Linked DNA regions of Homo sapiens: region 1 is linked to region 2. Evidence: fine-mapped expression QTL. Tissue or cell type: lung. Region 2 holds a variant in brackets; the other region holds the start of a gene. All regions are shown on one strand. Distances are from middle to middle.

Region 1 (8,000 bases), 130 kb after region 2:
AATCTTTGCATTTATATACCCTTTCTTCTCCTTGGGCCTGTAAGAAATACTCCGGAGGAAAAGTCGGAACCTGCTTTTTCAGAGTGTGTGGTTTATTTGAATATAGTCTGTACATAATAAAATAAAGATTTAAAAAAGGAAAGAAAAATACTCTGCAGAAATGATGGTTTTTAAACATTTCCCCCAAATTATGTAATTATTTAGGATTCTAGAATTAAAACAATTCAGTTAGTACCCAGTAAACAACTCTAATTGCTCTAAGATTAATAACAAAAAGTCTACATATCCTGTTTTAAAGTATGGTGTCCCTTTCCTTTGACTTTTTTAGGTCTTTCTGGAATTGTTCTTTTTTAGAACGTATTTCTATCCTACTGCAGTGGCTTTAACTGAATTTAACATTTTTTAATCAATTCAAGTATTTGCAATTTATTTGAAAAAGGAACACAACTCATTGAGTTCTATTTTGTCAAACAAAATGTTCTGGCATCAACATTAACAGGTAAGTATTGCTTTTTTTTTTTTTTTTTTTTGTTTAAGACAGGGTCTTACTCTGTCGCCCAGGCTGGAGTACAGTGGCGCAACTGTGCCTCACTGCAACCTTGAACTCTGGGCTCAGGCAAACCTCCTACCTCAGCTTCTGGGACTACAGACGCACACCACCACGCCCAGCTAATTTCTTTTATTTTTTGGCAGTGACAAAGTCTCACTATGCTGCTCAGACTGATATCAAACTCCTACGCTCAAGCAATCCTCTCGCCTCCACTTCCCAAAGTGCTGAGATTACAGGCGTGAGTGAGCCACCTGGCCAGGCCCTACAGGTAAGTGTTGGTTATTTTGTTTCTCTGAAACTAGAAACTTTAACAGTGAATAAATTCAAACACCTTTCTTGATCAACAGATCCTGATTTGACATTCTGTAGAGAACACAACATAATTAATGGTACTTATTTTTATGTCAAGATTAACTTTGAGATAAAAAAGAATTCTAATTACTTACTCTAAAATGAATCTGCTGAGAGCTAATAAAAATTCTCTTTAAACAGCTCTTTGTTAATCAGAGAAATTTATAATTATACATTTTGATTCTAAAAGGTCTAAAATTAAAATGTAGACACTGTACTGTTCTAGCTCCAGCAACTAAAAATAAATGTAATTTTAGGTGTCACTTAGAATTTATAAACTTGAACTTATATGCATGACAATATTTGTTAATTTATCTGTACTAACAACTTGGCCTATGACAATGAAAATACTTTAAATTTCTTTTCTGTATTTAAATGTTTGCTGGATTTAAAACATCAAATGTCATTAACTTTCACTTCCATTTCTGAATTATTTTAAGAAAACTTCATTTTTCATTTTCCACACTAGCCAAGTGAAAAACTGCAAGCAGCAGAAAAATTTATCTAAGAGTTTTAAAAGTAAGTTTCTTTTGTTTATATTAAATATAAATATTTTTAAAGCATAAAACGACTTAAAATTCTTATCTTCCCCAAAGTATATGGTTTCTAAGAAGCAATCTTTAAAAATTTGTTTATAAAAGCAACATAGCACACTAGACACTAATGAGTTATCTTAAGCACAGCTTTTTAAGAGAATCAATATTTCATTTTACCAGTTGTGACTAATCAGTACTACGATGCAGTGTAGTGACATACATGAGTTCTAAGCCTAAAGAAAATTTCAGCGCGCTCGCGCGCGCACACACACACATACACACACACACACAAAGTCGGCTTTTCTTTTTAAACCATCCCACAATTCAACACCTCTCGGTGGTATTCTCTGAATTATCATATCTGGCTGGGATTATCCAATTTTATTAGCTAACAGTTCTCATTACTTTAAAAACAGAAACAGGATATGTTCTGTTTCATCAAGTGCTACAAACATTTCGCTGCTGTAAGACTGGAGGGAAAAAATCTTTGGAAATAAAAGGCCATCTGATCCACTCGGGCTAATTACTAAATGCATGCCAACAATACACAATTCGAATTGCATTTCTGGACACAATTTAAGATCACGATAGGGCAGGTCAAATGTGTAAGGAACTACTACTTCTATCAAAATGAAGAAGCAGATATACGGTATCTAAGATCTCACGCAAAATTCATCTAAGACTTCGAAATCTTCTGAAAAGAAAATGTGTAATCAACGTTGTTAATACAACAGTAATTCATCCCATTCAAGTACGACTAGAAATCCCGCTGATGTGCTTCTTTCAGGTCTAAACATCTCATTCTTTCGCAATCCAGATACCAACAGGAGTCTGAAACCCTTCGCAGAGGCGTGCAACACACTAGGAGAGCGCTATCTGTTTACAAATACGAATCTCAGTTACCCACGTCAAAACCGCGCATTACCACCTTTCGACTGGGGGGCGGGGGAGAGAGAAGGCGGGCGAGCAAGAAACAAAATCCACACAGACACCTCTGCCTTCTCCCTACAAGGACGAGCCCGGGGAAACATTCAGTATGTATTATATGCGTGTATACATTTATATACATTATGTAGTCACCTATGTCTAAGCAAGGGTGAAAGAAAAAGGTACACATGACAGGGAATCGTAACTGGACCCAACAGAAATGTTCAAACCAATCCCGTTAACTCAAAATCCGCCCCGCTGGTCTACAACAGGTTTCGGTCCGGGACCGGGAGCCCCAGCCACAGTGTGGAGTTCGTCCCCAAAGCGCCCCAATGCCCTCCTCAGGCCGCCCAGGCCGCCGTCCCCACCTCCCTTATCTCAGCCTTCCCCTGGGACACCCGAAGCCCGTTCCAGGAAAGAAAGAAGTGTCAGGCCCCCAGGGGGCGGCTGAGACGCTCTCAGGCCAGGCCCCCGACACCTGCGAAGCGCGGCACCTGGGGAGGGCGAACCGGGGGCCGCCCGGCCTTCCCGAGCACACCCCCTCGGTACCCGACGCTGCCCCGCGGCCGGAACCTCGTACCTGCGAGGCCCGCGAGCTACAGGCGCGCGCGACGCCTCCTCATCTCAGTGGCTCCTGCTCTCCCTCCGCCTCCTGCTGCCGCCGCCGTCGCCGCTGCCGCCGCTGGAGGCCGGGACACGACTAGCTCAGGACTCCACCGCCATGTCCGCCGCGCCGCGAACTGCATTGTGGGGGGGAAGGGATGGGGAGGGGGAGGAGGAGGGAGAGGGAGAGGGAGAGAAAGAGGAGGACCCGCTGAGGGGAGGGGGCGAGGGAGAGCGGTTGCCGGGGGAGAGGGGGAGGGGAGAGGACAGAGCCTGTAATGGGGTCCTGGCCCGGGAGAGGAGGAGCTACGCGCAGAGGGAAGGGTTCAGGGGTGCCCCCTCCCTTCGTTCGGGGGGCCCCACAGGCACCGTTTACACCGGGGCGGGGGAGGGGGGAAACAGCACTGGGGGGAGGGGTCTCGTGGTGGCCGCGAAGAAACAATGGGGAGAAGGCCGAGGTAGGAGGATCGCGCACTCACACCCACGCGGAGGGAAGGGAGCGCGCGAGAGACACTCGTTAGCTCGCGAGGAGGGGGCGGGCCGCTGGCAGAGGGGAGGAGGGAGCCACCCGGGGCTCGCGGGCAGGGGCGGGGCCGCCGAGCGGAGGTCGCGAGGTCCCGCAGCCCGCCTGGGCGCCGCGGGTTAGCCGCGCTGATTCGCCCGCTTGCCGGAGTGGGTGGGGGTGGCGGGCGCCCCAGTGCTGCCCCAGTCTGGTTCCTAGTCTCTGCCGAGGCCCCCGAGCTGGAAGCCGAGCCCGAGGGCCGCCTCGGCGCCTCGCTCCCAAGGCTGCTCCCCCTGGGGAGGAAGGCCGGCCTGGAATGGGTACCCTCTGGCCTGGCACTCGGACTGGGCGTGGCCCGAGCCTCGGCGGACCCTCGGAAGCCCAAGCGGGCTTCGGAGCAACGGTAGGGAGCGGGGCAGAGGAAGCCGCCAGGGTCGACCCCCACCCACTCACCACGGCCTCCAGCCCACCGCAGCTGGACCTTTTTTCCTTTGAAAAGGCAGGCAGTTCAGGAATGAAGGAGCTCGAAGAGAAATCTCTGGAGCACTCCATCTCCCACCCCCAAAAGAGGTTTTAGAAATCATTTCTTTAGCTGCAGGCGGGCATAAAACCATCTACCATCAATGGGCCCCCTCATCCCCTTGCTTTTAACGTATTACATTCCTCTACATAATTATTTAAAGTCACGGGCGGAACGGACTTAAGGTTTTGTTAGTTTTGTTTTTTGTTGTTTTTTTTTAAGACCCCAGCCTCAGAGATTATTTAGCCAATCTCTGACCTCAAAGCTGGACAAAGCACACAACCTCTGTGCTCTGTGCCCAGTCCTTTGAGTTTGACACATGCTAGGCAGGAAAAAGGTATGAAAAGAGTGGACGTAGAGGTGAAGGGAAGATGTTAAATCTTAAGTATTTACAAGATAGTGCCTTATAAATTTTCTTATAATGTGACTCAGGCTGGGACTGGTTAGAGGTCACAGAGGGACGCTCCACTTCACGATAGCCCTGTGAGTTACGTACTGTTGCTCTCATTTACGGATGAAAAAACTAGGGTTCAGAGTTAGTGCATTTTACCCCAATCTGGCTGATGCTACAAGGCCCAGGTATAATGGATAGAGGACTGGATTTCAAGTCAAAAGAGCCCTACCTGGTTTTGGCGTTTATCAACATGATGCCTTTGAGCAAATGTACCCTCTTGAGTTTCCTCATCTGCAAATTCTTAATCTGTATCCCTGCTTCGCTTGACTAGCCTGGAAACAAAGAAAAAATCCCTACTTCACCCGGCTGAAAGCCTAAAGCCTATAGAGACACTAAGAAGATACCGACATGCCCTTCAATTCAGTGATAGCAGTGTCCTTAGAACAAGTTCAATTGAGTAAACATTTCCTAATTACTTAAGAGCAAAGCGTTGTTAGGTGCCTAGGGAAACAAAGACAAATCATTGCTTCCTGTCTCCAAAAAGTTCCCCATTGAGCAAGCAGGTGAGCTACAATAAAAGCAACAGGTCTTATTAACAAAGGGCTGGGCAAATCCAGAGGAGAGTGTGATAAATTCCACTTTGGTGAGACTTCCGTGGAAGAACTAAAAGCTGGACCTTGAAGATCTGTCTGCTGTGTGCCAGACACATGTCTGTGATTCAGAGGGCAGCATTGACTCTGGAGTGTGCAGAAGATAATGAATCTGGAAAAGAAAACTGGGGCCAGACTGAAAATTTCAGTGCCTCTCTGCCCTTATCCCCTCCAGATACTCTCTTCTACTACCTTGCTTATTCCCCAAGACCCAGCTCAACCTCTACCTTCTTTATTAAATCTTCCTGATTACCACCCCTCCTCTGCACTCCACTGAATGTGATCCCTCTATTCTCTGAATTCCGTGACCCCAATAGATTGTACACTTCAGCACAGATACTTACAAGGTATTCCTTCTGATACCTACATAGTTGTCGAGTTGAAAATTTTGACAACTATAATTTTATCATCACAGCTAGAGCAAGTATGGTTCTGACACAAAGAATAAGGAAATTTATGGAGTATAAGGTTTAATTCATGCCCAGGGTCATACAGTAAGTCACAGGCTGGACTAGAATACCAGCCCTGTATTCTTCCCATTGAACCACAGGTTTTTGAGATATAAAATGGTAAATGTCTGATTTCTATGTAAAAATCCTCTGAGGACTTAAACTTTCAAGGGAAATCTCATGATTGTGGTTAAGCCTCCAGTCTGGAAGTTCTGAAAACTTAGTTTCATCCAAACCCAGGTGAAAATAACTTGCAGTAAAAATCTTATTTCATTGTATCTCATGAGGAATATAATTACTCAGTGGATCAATATTCATATTCTGTTGTCTTCCTAGGTGAATAAGAAAACTTAGTAAAAAACTAATAATATTGAATGAAAAGGTGACTTGGTAAGTAAAATTATAACAAGAAAGGTGCCTAGTCCCAGCACTTTGGGAGGCCGAGGTGGGCAGATCACTTGAGGTCAGGAGTTCAAGACCAGCCTGGGCAACATGGTGAAACCCCATCTCTACTAAAAATACAAAAATTAGCCAGGCATGGTGGTGGGTGCCTGTAATCCCAGCTACTCAGGAGGTTGAGGCAGGAGAATCGCTTGAACCCGGGAGGCAGAGGTTGCAGTGAGCCGAGATCATGCCTCTGCACTCCAGTCTGGGTGACAGAACAGGACTCCATTTCAAGAAAAAAGAAAGGTGCCTAAGTCTGTTCAAACCAAGTTTTGCTGTTTGATCATAAAGGGCCCTGTATGCCACTGGAAAAAAAGCAGGCTTTATATTATAGTTATTGGGGAATCACTGATCACTTGTAAGCAGAGATAAATACAATCAGACCTGCTAAGCTGTTTCTCTGAGCCCCATTTTTTTTTTTCCTGTGTACTTGATTTCTCCAAGGAGAGAGACTATAGGCCCTGGGTGATAATGATCTCTAGTGAAAAACAGTGCATCACCCCCATGATGTGGTCCTAACCAAGTCTCCTTTACCTTTGTATTTTCAGCACCCAGCATAATCCTGACACATATAGAAAGCACTCAGAAATTGCTTGTTGACACTCTAAATTGTCTATAAAGCATAAGATATGGTCAGTGTCTAAAATTTTTGTGATTCTTGCAAAGATCATGACAATACCAAAGCTCTTGAGGTGTGTGCTCACCTCAAGATAGTGTAAAGGATTTACTTCTCTTTGTCTGTTTGCATTCTTAAAAGTCAATGAGATGAAAATGTGTAAAAATGCCTATTTCATAGTAAATGTTCCACACAAATGAATTCCCTTTCTTCTTAAAATTTAGTTTCTTCTCATCTGCCCCATTTGGATTTCATGTGCCCTTAGACTCACACTAGCACATGTGTGTACTTTCTACCTGTTGATTCCATTTCATCTGTCCTGAGGATTCTATGCGTGGAATTTTAAACTACAGCCACACCCTGCAGCTTACTTCATTGAAACATTAGAAACAGTCAGTTTTTCTTAAGGTGGCATTTTTTTAAGTGAATAAGATTTTAGAATTTAAAAGGACATTAGCGTTCATAAAGTTAGAGATATCAAGAACATATATACATGGCAGAAGATGATGCTATAAAGTTAGACTAGGACCGCATCATTGTTAAAAAAGCAAGTTTTTATTCTGAAGTTAATGGGCAATCATGGAACATCTGTAAACAAGGAGAGAGATGTTCAGACTTGCCTTATACAGCAGGTGTTCGTCTGACTTCTGTTTGTACATTCATAGCTATAGAGAGCTCATTCCTTACCAAATCTGCCTGTTCCAGGAAAAAGAAGTACTTCCTCAACAGAGCTGGACTTTTCCTTCTGTGATACATATTTGTTGGTAATCCTGACCTTAGGAATAACATCAGCCTTCTTTATACATAAAAATGAGGGAGCCAGGCATGATGGCTCACACCTGTAATCCCAGCAATTTGGGAGGCTGAGGCAAGAGGATCAAGGCCAGGAGCTTGAGACCAGCCTGGGCAACATGGTGAGACCCCATCTTCAAAAAAATAAAATTTGGCTGGGCACCATGGCTCACACCTGTAATCACAGCACTTTGGGAGGCCAAAGCAGTTGGATCACTTGGCAATCAGGAGTTCGAGACCAGCCTGGCAAACATGGTTAAAATTCCATCTCTACTAAAAAATACAGAAGTTAGCTGGGCATAGCACACGACTGTAGTCCCAGCTACTCAGGAGGCTGAGACAGGAGAATCACTTGAACCTGGGAGGTGGAGGTTGCAGTGGTCCAAGATCATGCCACTGCCCTCCAGCCTGGATGACAGAGGGAGACTCTGTCTCAAAAAATAAATTAATTAAATTAAATTAAAAATTTAACCAGGAATGGTGGTGCATGTTTGTAGTCCTAGCTACTTGAGAGACCGAGTTGGGAGAATCACTTGAGCCCGGGGGTGGAGGCTTCAGTGAGTTATGAATGTGCCTCTGCACTCCAGGCTGGGTGACAGAGTGAGACCCTGACTCTTAAATGTAAAAAGAAAGAAAAGGGTGTGAACCAGATAAACTAGGGCAGGA
Region 2 (8,263 bases):
ACATTACATATATAATATGTATATATAAGAATAACTGGAAACAGCAAAAATGTCCATCTGTAGGGGATATAAACAAATATACAGTACATATTTATATTTTTAATAACCCTAATGTCAAGGGAAAATACTAATCTCCATGTCATTAAACAGAACATTTCAAAACAATTTGGTCTTAAATGTGTGTGTTCTCCCTGTATAAGATTGATAATTTTCTACTTAACTGCTCTACAATGAATCTGAACTCATAATCTACTTTGCAGACTTAAAATCTGAGTTTCTACTATATCAATTTTAAACTATATGTTTTTCAACAGAACAGTTTTGCCAATTATTGAACACTGGCAGTTACTGAAGGAGGGGCAAATGAGATGCTGAAAACTAGTATCTATAACACTATCATATAAGTAAAACCTAGGCTGTTGGTTACTAGGTTGCCAGTTAATAGGTTTTGCCAAGTGGTATTTTATACTGCCTTCCTTAAGGAAGAAAGGCTGAGGGGTTGGGGCATTCTGTTATTGGAAGTTGTTTTATTTTTAATGAATATTTCAAATACAATCCTCCCCTTGGTATCTGGTGGGGGGTTGGTTCCAGGACCTCCCGCAGATATACCAAAATCCAAGGATGCTCAGGTCCCTGATATAAAATAGTGTAGTCTTTGCATATAACCTATGCACATCCTCCTTTATACTTTAAATCATTTCTAGATTACATATAATGCCTCATACAATGGAAATTCTGTGGGAAAAGTTGTTATACTGTATTGTTTAGGGAATAATAACAAACTGTACAAGTTCAGTACAGACACAGTTTTTTTTAATATCTGCAATCCGTGGTTGGTTGAATCCATAGATGCAAAACCCATGGATATGGAGGGCCTACTGTATGTACAAAAGTAAAGAGAATAATAAACACCCCTGTATACGTCATTACCTGTTCTCCAAGATGTGGAAGGACATGAAGTATTGAATGTTAATTTAAATCTTGAATGCTCCAAGTCATTTTAACATGAATGCATAGTTGGGTCAGGTATCTTGTTAATAAATGATTTAAGTCCACCACTTAATAGGATTCTGAAAGATGCTGACGCTTTAATAAGAAAAAATAGTAAATATACCTAACTCAGGTTAGGTAAAAAAAATAGTAAATATATTTAACTCAGGGCTGTAAATACAGCATGAATACCCTCAACCTCCTGCAATAGGTTTCAAATATCTTCCATGTTGCAAAATATGGCAAGGGCCCAAGCAGTCTCCTATTTAAGTAATGTATATCAGAGGAAGCGCAGCAAAGATAACCCACTGTCCTTACATTTTTATCTACTTATTCTGCACCTTTCCAAATAGATATATAGCATCATTTAGCCTAAAATCCCAGGCAACTGGACGGACTAATTAAGGGGTTAGAGAAAATTACCTCACCTCACTGCTAAAACAGCTAAAACATTATGCCACCAACAACTCGAGTCTGAATTCCAATACCCAATAATAATTAATTCCAAGTATTACTGGTAAATAATTATCATCTTGGCAAGTGTGCTTTCCAGGTGGAAGTATAGGACTCAAAATGAATACAGTCTGGGCTGGGTGCAGTGGCTCAACGCCTGTAATCCCAGCACTTTGGGAGGCCAAGGCAGGTGGATCACCTGAGGTCAGGAATTCGAGACCAGCCTGACCAACATGATGAAACCCCGCCACTACTAAAAATACAAAAATTGGCCAAGTGTGGTGGTGCATGCCTGTAATCCCAGCTACTCGGGAGGCTGAGGCAGGAGAATCGCTCAAACCCAGAAGACAGAGGTTGCAGTGAGCCGAGATCATACTACAGCACTGCAGCCTGGGTGACAGACAGACTCTATCTCAAAAAAAAAAAAAAAAAAAAGTAATCTTCCCTCCACTCTAATTGCCAATATTAGTCTCAGTGTTTTAAAATTCTCTTTCCAAATACTTTTCAATTCAGACTCCAGCATTGTTTGCTTTTTGGAATTTACTGACTGCTTTGCATTTCAGTTTTTATTTTCAAAGATAAAATGGAAATGGCTTCCGCTTCTATCAACCTCATATGGGTGTTGTGAACATCCAACCAAATAAAGGATATGAAATGTTACTTGAATCTCTAAAACTAAAATCTGTGATTTAGAATGCTCTATTCACTGAAATTAAAAGAAATCTTGTTACGTAATATTTCCATCATCTATACAACAGATTAACCAAATTTAACTCTTGTCAAAAAGATTTATTAACTTAAAATAGAAGTACTTCAAATACAGACAAAATCAACTTTCCATTCAAGTTTGAATGTTCAATATACAAGTATGGAAAAGAAAAAAAATCTGAATCTTCATGTTGTAATTTTATTTTATTTTTTTACCTTTTAAAAAGTTTTTGGCACTACAAGGTTCTGTAAAGAATAGAAGTGACAATTTAAAACACATGAAATTCTTTCCTAACTTTTAAGAACAATATATAAAGTCTGAAGCAACCAAAGTATGAATACAGCTAATAGAAAATAAAGAATGTAATTTTTTAAATTCTCTCTTTATACAATTCATCAAGGTTAAACAAAACATAAAATTCCCTTAAAAATAGGGTAATAAAATAGATGAAATTTGTATCACTCAATTTGGTGATACTAGTAAAAACTATAGTTCATATTTATATACAAATAATACAGTCTGTAAAAACAGTCTTAGAATTTAAATAAGCTATCTAAACGTGTTAAAATTTTAAATCAGGACCTGATTTGTTTTGCTTTCCATTAAATGTCACTTTTTCTGCTGAATGTAACTGACATTGAGGTACGGATACCCTTGAGACAGCAGGATTGGCTGGTTGCTGTGCATCGGTAGACCAGCTGAAAGAAAATGGACTCGCATTACTCCGACACGTTTCCTCTTGGTGGGTGGGGACAACGCTCTCTACACCGACGGGTGGCACATCTGTCTGTTGGATACAACACAGACAGGAAACTGAAAGGCTTGTGCCTGTTTATCTGACAACACCTTAGAATTAACTTGTAGTTAGCTTTCTTTTTTTCTATTTATATAATAGGAGGTGATAAAGCATGCTGCAAAACATTTGAGAGGGTGGGGAGAAAAATGAAGAAGGGAAGGAAATACCTGTATGTGAAAAAAGGAGAGGACACGAAAGATGGAGAGG[A/C]GGAATCAAAGGGAAAAAACCCACTAGAAAAGAGTTGCAGACTCTCCCCTCCTAAAAGGGCTTATGACTAATAGTAACTTCCTTCAGCCCCAGTTCTTTGCTCAAGAGAAGAGCTCAACCACAGTCAAGGCTCTGCCACTCTACAATACAGGGATGCCCCAGTAGTATATGGGTGGTTTAAGAAGGCTTAAATATAACAAGCCTGAGACCATACCAGGCACTTCCCCTTTAAGTTATCATTTCATTCAATCAGCATTTCCTGAGTGCCTGTTTTAACTTCTTGAACTCCTAGTTTAACTATACTGACTCTGACCCAAGTGTTCTGAACTAAGTTAACAAAGAGCTGAAGGCCAGACTCAGACAATGCCTATAAGAACAAATACCTCTGAGGCAAGTAGGTTAGATAAAATGCTCCAAGTTTCTAGGAATTCTTTGTTTGTAATATTCATTACCCAGTCAAAGCCATTATTAGTACTACAATAGCACCAGCAGAACATAATAAATTTTAAGGTCATTCAAGTCCTACGTTTACTAAACAAATATGATTATGTCTTCGTTCCACTAAAAACCTTTAATTAGGTCCCCAATGCTCAGTAAACCAAGTCCAAACTCCATAATATGGTCTAAGCCTACCCTCTCTAGCCTTATCACCATCTTTCCCATATACCTCCGTCCTCTAGCCCTAATATTTTCTACTCTTTTTCATTATGCCAGGCAAAACTCAGTGACTGCATATATTAATCCCTCAGCTAAGCATACTCCTCCTCCTCTCTCATCTCTAGGCAAAAAAAAAATTCCTGCATCTCTTTCAAGATCTAGCTCAACTGTCAAAATCTTGTGATGTAATAATCTTAAATCCACATCCTGTTTGGATTTGCTAGGGCAATGTTAACTGATTCATCTAAACTCCTTTTCTATTTAACATGTCTGGCTTTCCTAATAAAGTGTGCATCAAGTAATGGAGATTTTGTTTTACAAGCACCTAGCACCATCTGACACACAGTATAATTTCTCAGTAAATGTTTACTGAATTCATGAATTTTCACTCCCAGATCCTGGCCTTCACTAAGGCTCTCTATCCCAGAATAAAACCCACCCAAGCCTGTTAACTAATTTGTAAGCAGTGGTACCTTGAGTATAGAAAGGTTTGTTGGGCTGGAATCGGGCATTTCCCTGATGCATGAAGTTTTGATGCAAACCATAAGGCCACGAAGCTGGGACAAGGGGGAAATGGGGACGCGGTGCATGTTCCCAAGGAATTGGAGGAGTCAGTCCTCGAAAGCCTGGCTCTGCATTTCAACAAGAGGGAAAAAGACATTTAAAAACATTAGTTCATTCATTGAAATATCCCTTCATTCCACAAAGATATATTCAGTACCTACCATTGGCTAAGAACTATGCTAAATTCAGAGAATACCAAACAAACTTTTTTAAAGAATAAAGCATTGGTATTTGCTCAAATTATTCATAAGAGACATACAAGAAGAGATATATATATACACAACAATATGTAATAATTGCTAGTAGAACAGGCAAAATGTTCTGAAGAGAGGGCTAACCCAGTCTTTGAAGGTTAGAGACAGTCTTCGTAAGATGATTGACTAATATGAGTTCTAGAAAACAAGGAAAAATTTAGGCAAAATAGGGAGGGGGTGGGGGGCATTTCAGAGAGAAGGAGTATCATGTACAAAAGCCTGAAAGCAGGAAAGCACATCAAGTTTGGGGAACTGCACAACAATCTGCAACATAGAGACAGGAGTGATGGAGGAAGTGGTAAGAGAAAAGGCGGGACAGGTAGGTGGGGATATACATTTCAAAAAACCTTAGTACATCATGCAAAGGAACTTAAGATTTTATCCTAAAGACAATGCCAACTATCCCAGAATCAATTATATCTTGGCCTGGAAGGAGATCCTATTACAAGCTTGAGGCATTGTGGCATAATGGTTGAGAACTTGGGCTTTGAGGCCAAACAAGTCTAAGCTCAAATCTCATTTCCTAAAACTACTAAGGTTCCATTTTGAACCTCAGATTATGAGGTTTAAATTGGATAACCAAAAGAAAGTAGCTTGCACAAGAGCTAGCATATAGGTAGGTACTCAAAAAATGTAAGTCCTATTCTTTTTATGGCTAACTATCCCCCCAAATCTATTTCCCTTTAAAATGTATCTTTAAGTACATTTTTCGAAGTGCAGTACCCAGTTTATATTCTGGATCATTCTGGTGGCTTTTCTCATTCAGAGTCACAGTGTGCTAGGGAATAAAAGGGAATAACTGCCCTTATTCACTAAACTTCTCAGCAGGAACTCAAATTAAGTACGGGATAGGAAAGAGTAGGCAGCAAAAAAAACTAAAGCCCGTGTGAACTGCATTCTTAGAAGCTGAATCTTCTCAGAAAGTAAGCAAACCAGCTAGTTCACTGTGAATTCATAAAAGCCAAGTTACAACTAAGGGCTGAATCTGAAGGGCTCAGGGTTTACAAAAATAAGTGAAACTGGTATATCCAGAATTAGGTCATAACCAAATGAGAAATGATGTTTTAACATAAAAGGGTATTTTTAAAAGATATATTCCAATCCCCTTTGCCTGTTTTTCATAACCCAAAATTTCCAGAAAATGAGTAATACAATCTCATTAAAGATAATTTGAAAAATGGGGGAAAAAAACTCATAATAATCTCCTCCGATACAACTATGATTATTATTTTAATATATTTCCATTCAGTCCTTCCATTTTCAACACAGTGTAACTGTAGCTTTAATAACAATTATGAATTGAGTATCTATACAATGAATAATATTAAGTATAGCTTATTAGATAATAATACTATATAACAGGAACATGGCAGGCTACTAAAGAGAAAACTAAACTCACTACTAGACAGAAAATGACAGACAAAAAACAATTTTTTGCTTCTAGAAGTTCAGTCTAATGGGTTATGCAGATGAGTAAACAGACAATTTCAGCACAGTAAGACAAATGTTATGATATGAATACTAAGAAAATGAGGATTTCCTGAAGAAAGTGATCTAAATTTAAAAATGGAGGATGAGTGAGTTAGCCAAGCTTTGAGGCAGCACAGAAGAAGGTGAGAGTGAGCAGCAGAGGTAACGGAGAGGACATTCCAAGCAGAAGGAACAACTTAGATAAGCAACCAGGGGTAAGAGATAGTACAGTATGTTTGTGGGACATTAATTAGTTCACTATGACTAAAACACTGAGAACAACAAGTTGCAGGGGGATGGAAGACTTCAAATTATAAAAATGGAGCTGATACATCAAAGGGCAAAACACTGGGTCTGTCTTCATGGTTCTATAACTCAGTGACTATCACAGTGCATGTCATGGCATATACACAATAAACATGTTGAATGATATATGAGAAGGACCATGTATGCCATATATCCTCTGATCTTAGAAATCTAATTAAGTTACCATATTCTGGCATTTTTGCTCAGCAAAATACCTTACTTGCATTGTTCCAAAAGAAGCTGGAGACAGCAAAATAATGGATACTGGCAACAATTATCAATGGCAGCTAAGGCTATTAAGTAAAAATGATGAATTTGATAATGGGTAAAACAGGCTGATAAAACCTAACTCACAGATCAATCTTAAGTCACTAAAATAGTTACAACCAGACAGTAAGTTCCTTCTGAAGTGAGGAAACTGGAAATACACGGACCCACCAAGCAGCATTCTTACCAACAGAAAGAGCCTGAATCTAATCCAGTCTCTGAATCTAAATCCCAGTTTACAGGAAATACAGGGACAGAGGTACACATTAAATGATGCCACAAAGACATAATCAGCCAACTCCAGAATATGGGAAATTCTACAGTGCCTTATAGTTAATATCGGAAAAAAAACAGAAGCAGCAACTGTTATAAAGGACAGTTAAGAGAGATAAAAATCAAAGAGATATAAAAACCAAACACACAGTTTTAATTTTGATTCAAATAAATCGATAATAGGAATACTTTTTTAGGCTGGGCACAGTGGCTCACGCCTGTAAATCCAGCACTTTGGGAGGCCAAGGCAGGCGGATCATGAGGTCAAGAGATCGAGACCATCCTGGCCAACATGGTGAATGAAACCCCATCTCTACTAAAAATACAAAAATTAGGGCCAGGCGCGGTGGCTCACACCTGTAATCCCTGTACTTTGGGAGGCCGAGGCAGGCGGATAATTTGAGGTCAGAAGTTCAAGACCAGCTTGACCTACATAGTGAAACCCCGTCTCTACTAAAATACAAAATTTAGCTAGGCGTGGTGGCAGGCGCCTCTAATCCCAGCTACTTGGGAGGCTGAGGCAGGAGAATCGCTTGAACCCAGGAAGCGGAGGTTGCAGTGAGCTGAGATCGTGCCACTGCACTCCAGCCTGGGTGACAAAGCAAGACTCCCTCTAAAAAAAAAAAAAAAAAAAAAAAAATTCCGGGCATGGTGGTGCGCACCTGTAGTCTCAGCTATTCGGGAGGCAGGAGAATCACTTGAACTCAGAAGGCGGAGGTTGCAGTGAGCCGAGATTGTTCCACTGCACTCCAGCCTGGCAACAGAGCGAGACTGTCTCAAAAAACTATATACTTTTTTAGATAAACAGGAAAAACTGAACAAGGACTGGGTATTAGATGATACTAGGTATGGCAATGATCTCATGTTTTTTTTAAGTGACACAACTGAAGTTAAAAAGCAAATTTGATGCAATGTCTGAGATTTGATCAGTCAAGTCAAAAATATTTTTAATGGCTAGGAATCCGATAAAAGAATAGCAAATTATTGATAACTGTTAAAGTTGGTTAATGGGGAGGGGGGTTCATTATATACTTTACTGTCTTTTGTGTATGTTTCAAAATTTCCATAATAGGTTTTTTTTTTTTTTTTTTTGAGATGGAGTCTCGCTCTGTCGCCCAGGCTGGAGTGCAGTGGCACGATCTCGGCTCACTGCAAGTTCTGCCTCCCGGGTTCACACCATCCTCCTGCCTCAGCCTCCCGAGTAGCTGGGACTACAGGCGCCCACCACCACGCTCAGCTGATTTTTTGTATTTTTTAAGTAGAGACGGGGTTTCACCGTGTTAGCCAGGATGTGCTTGATCTCCTGACCTTGTGATC

The links. PIP is the estimated chance that this variant, and not a neighbour inherited with it, causes the effect.
Region 1: it holds the start of TUT4, and the variant in region 2 is fine-mapped to the expression of TUT4 in lung (TOPMed, PIP 0.94).

The regions. Positions count from the first base shown.
Region 1 is chr1:52,549,987-52,557,986 of GRCh38, forward strand. It overlaps TUT4 (terminal uridylyl transferase 4), which reads right to left and starts at 3,106. Exons shown (of 30, transcript NM_001009881.3): 1 at 2,945-3,106. LOC105378723 (a long non-coding RNA gene) reads left to right here. Exons shown (of 4, transcript XR_007066083.1): 2 at 694-818; 3 at 1,371-1,420; 4 at 2,255-2,851. RefSeq lists silencers at 2,719-3,048, 3,119-3,248, 3,289-3,398, 3,409-3,808.
Region 2 is chr1:52,421,064-52,429,326 of GRCh38, forward strand. It overlaps TUT4 (terminal uridylyl transferase 4), which reads right to left. Exons shown (of 30, transcript NM_001009881.3): 29 at 4,286-4,444; 30 at 2,212-2,939. The coding sequence ends at 2,872. Among named protein-coding and RNA genes, the nearest start is that of PRPF38A, 21 kb to the left of the region's middle. RefSeq lists an enhancer at 2,817-2,866. The variant A/C (reference allele first, on the strand shown) is at 3,156.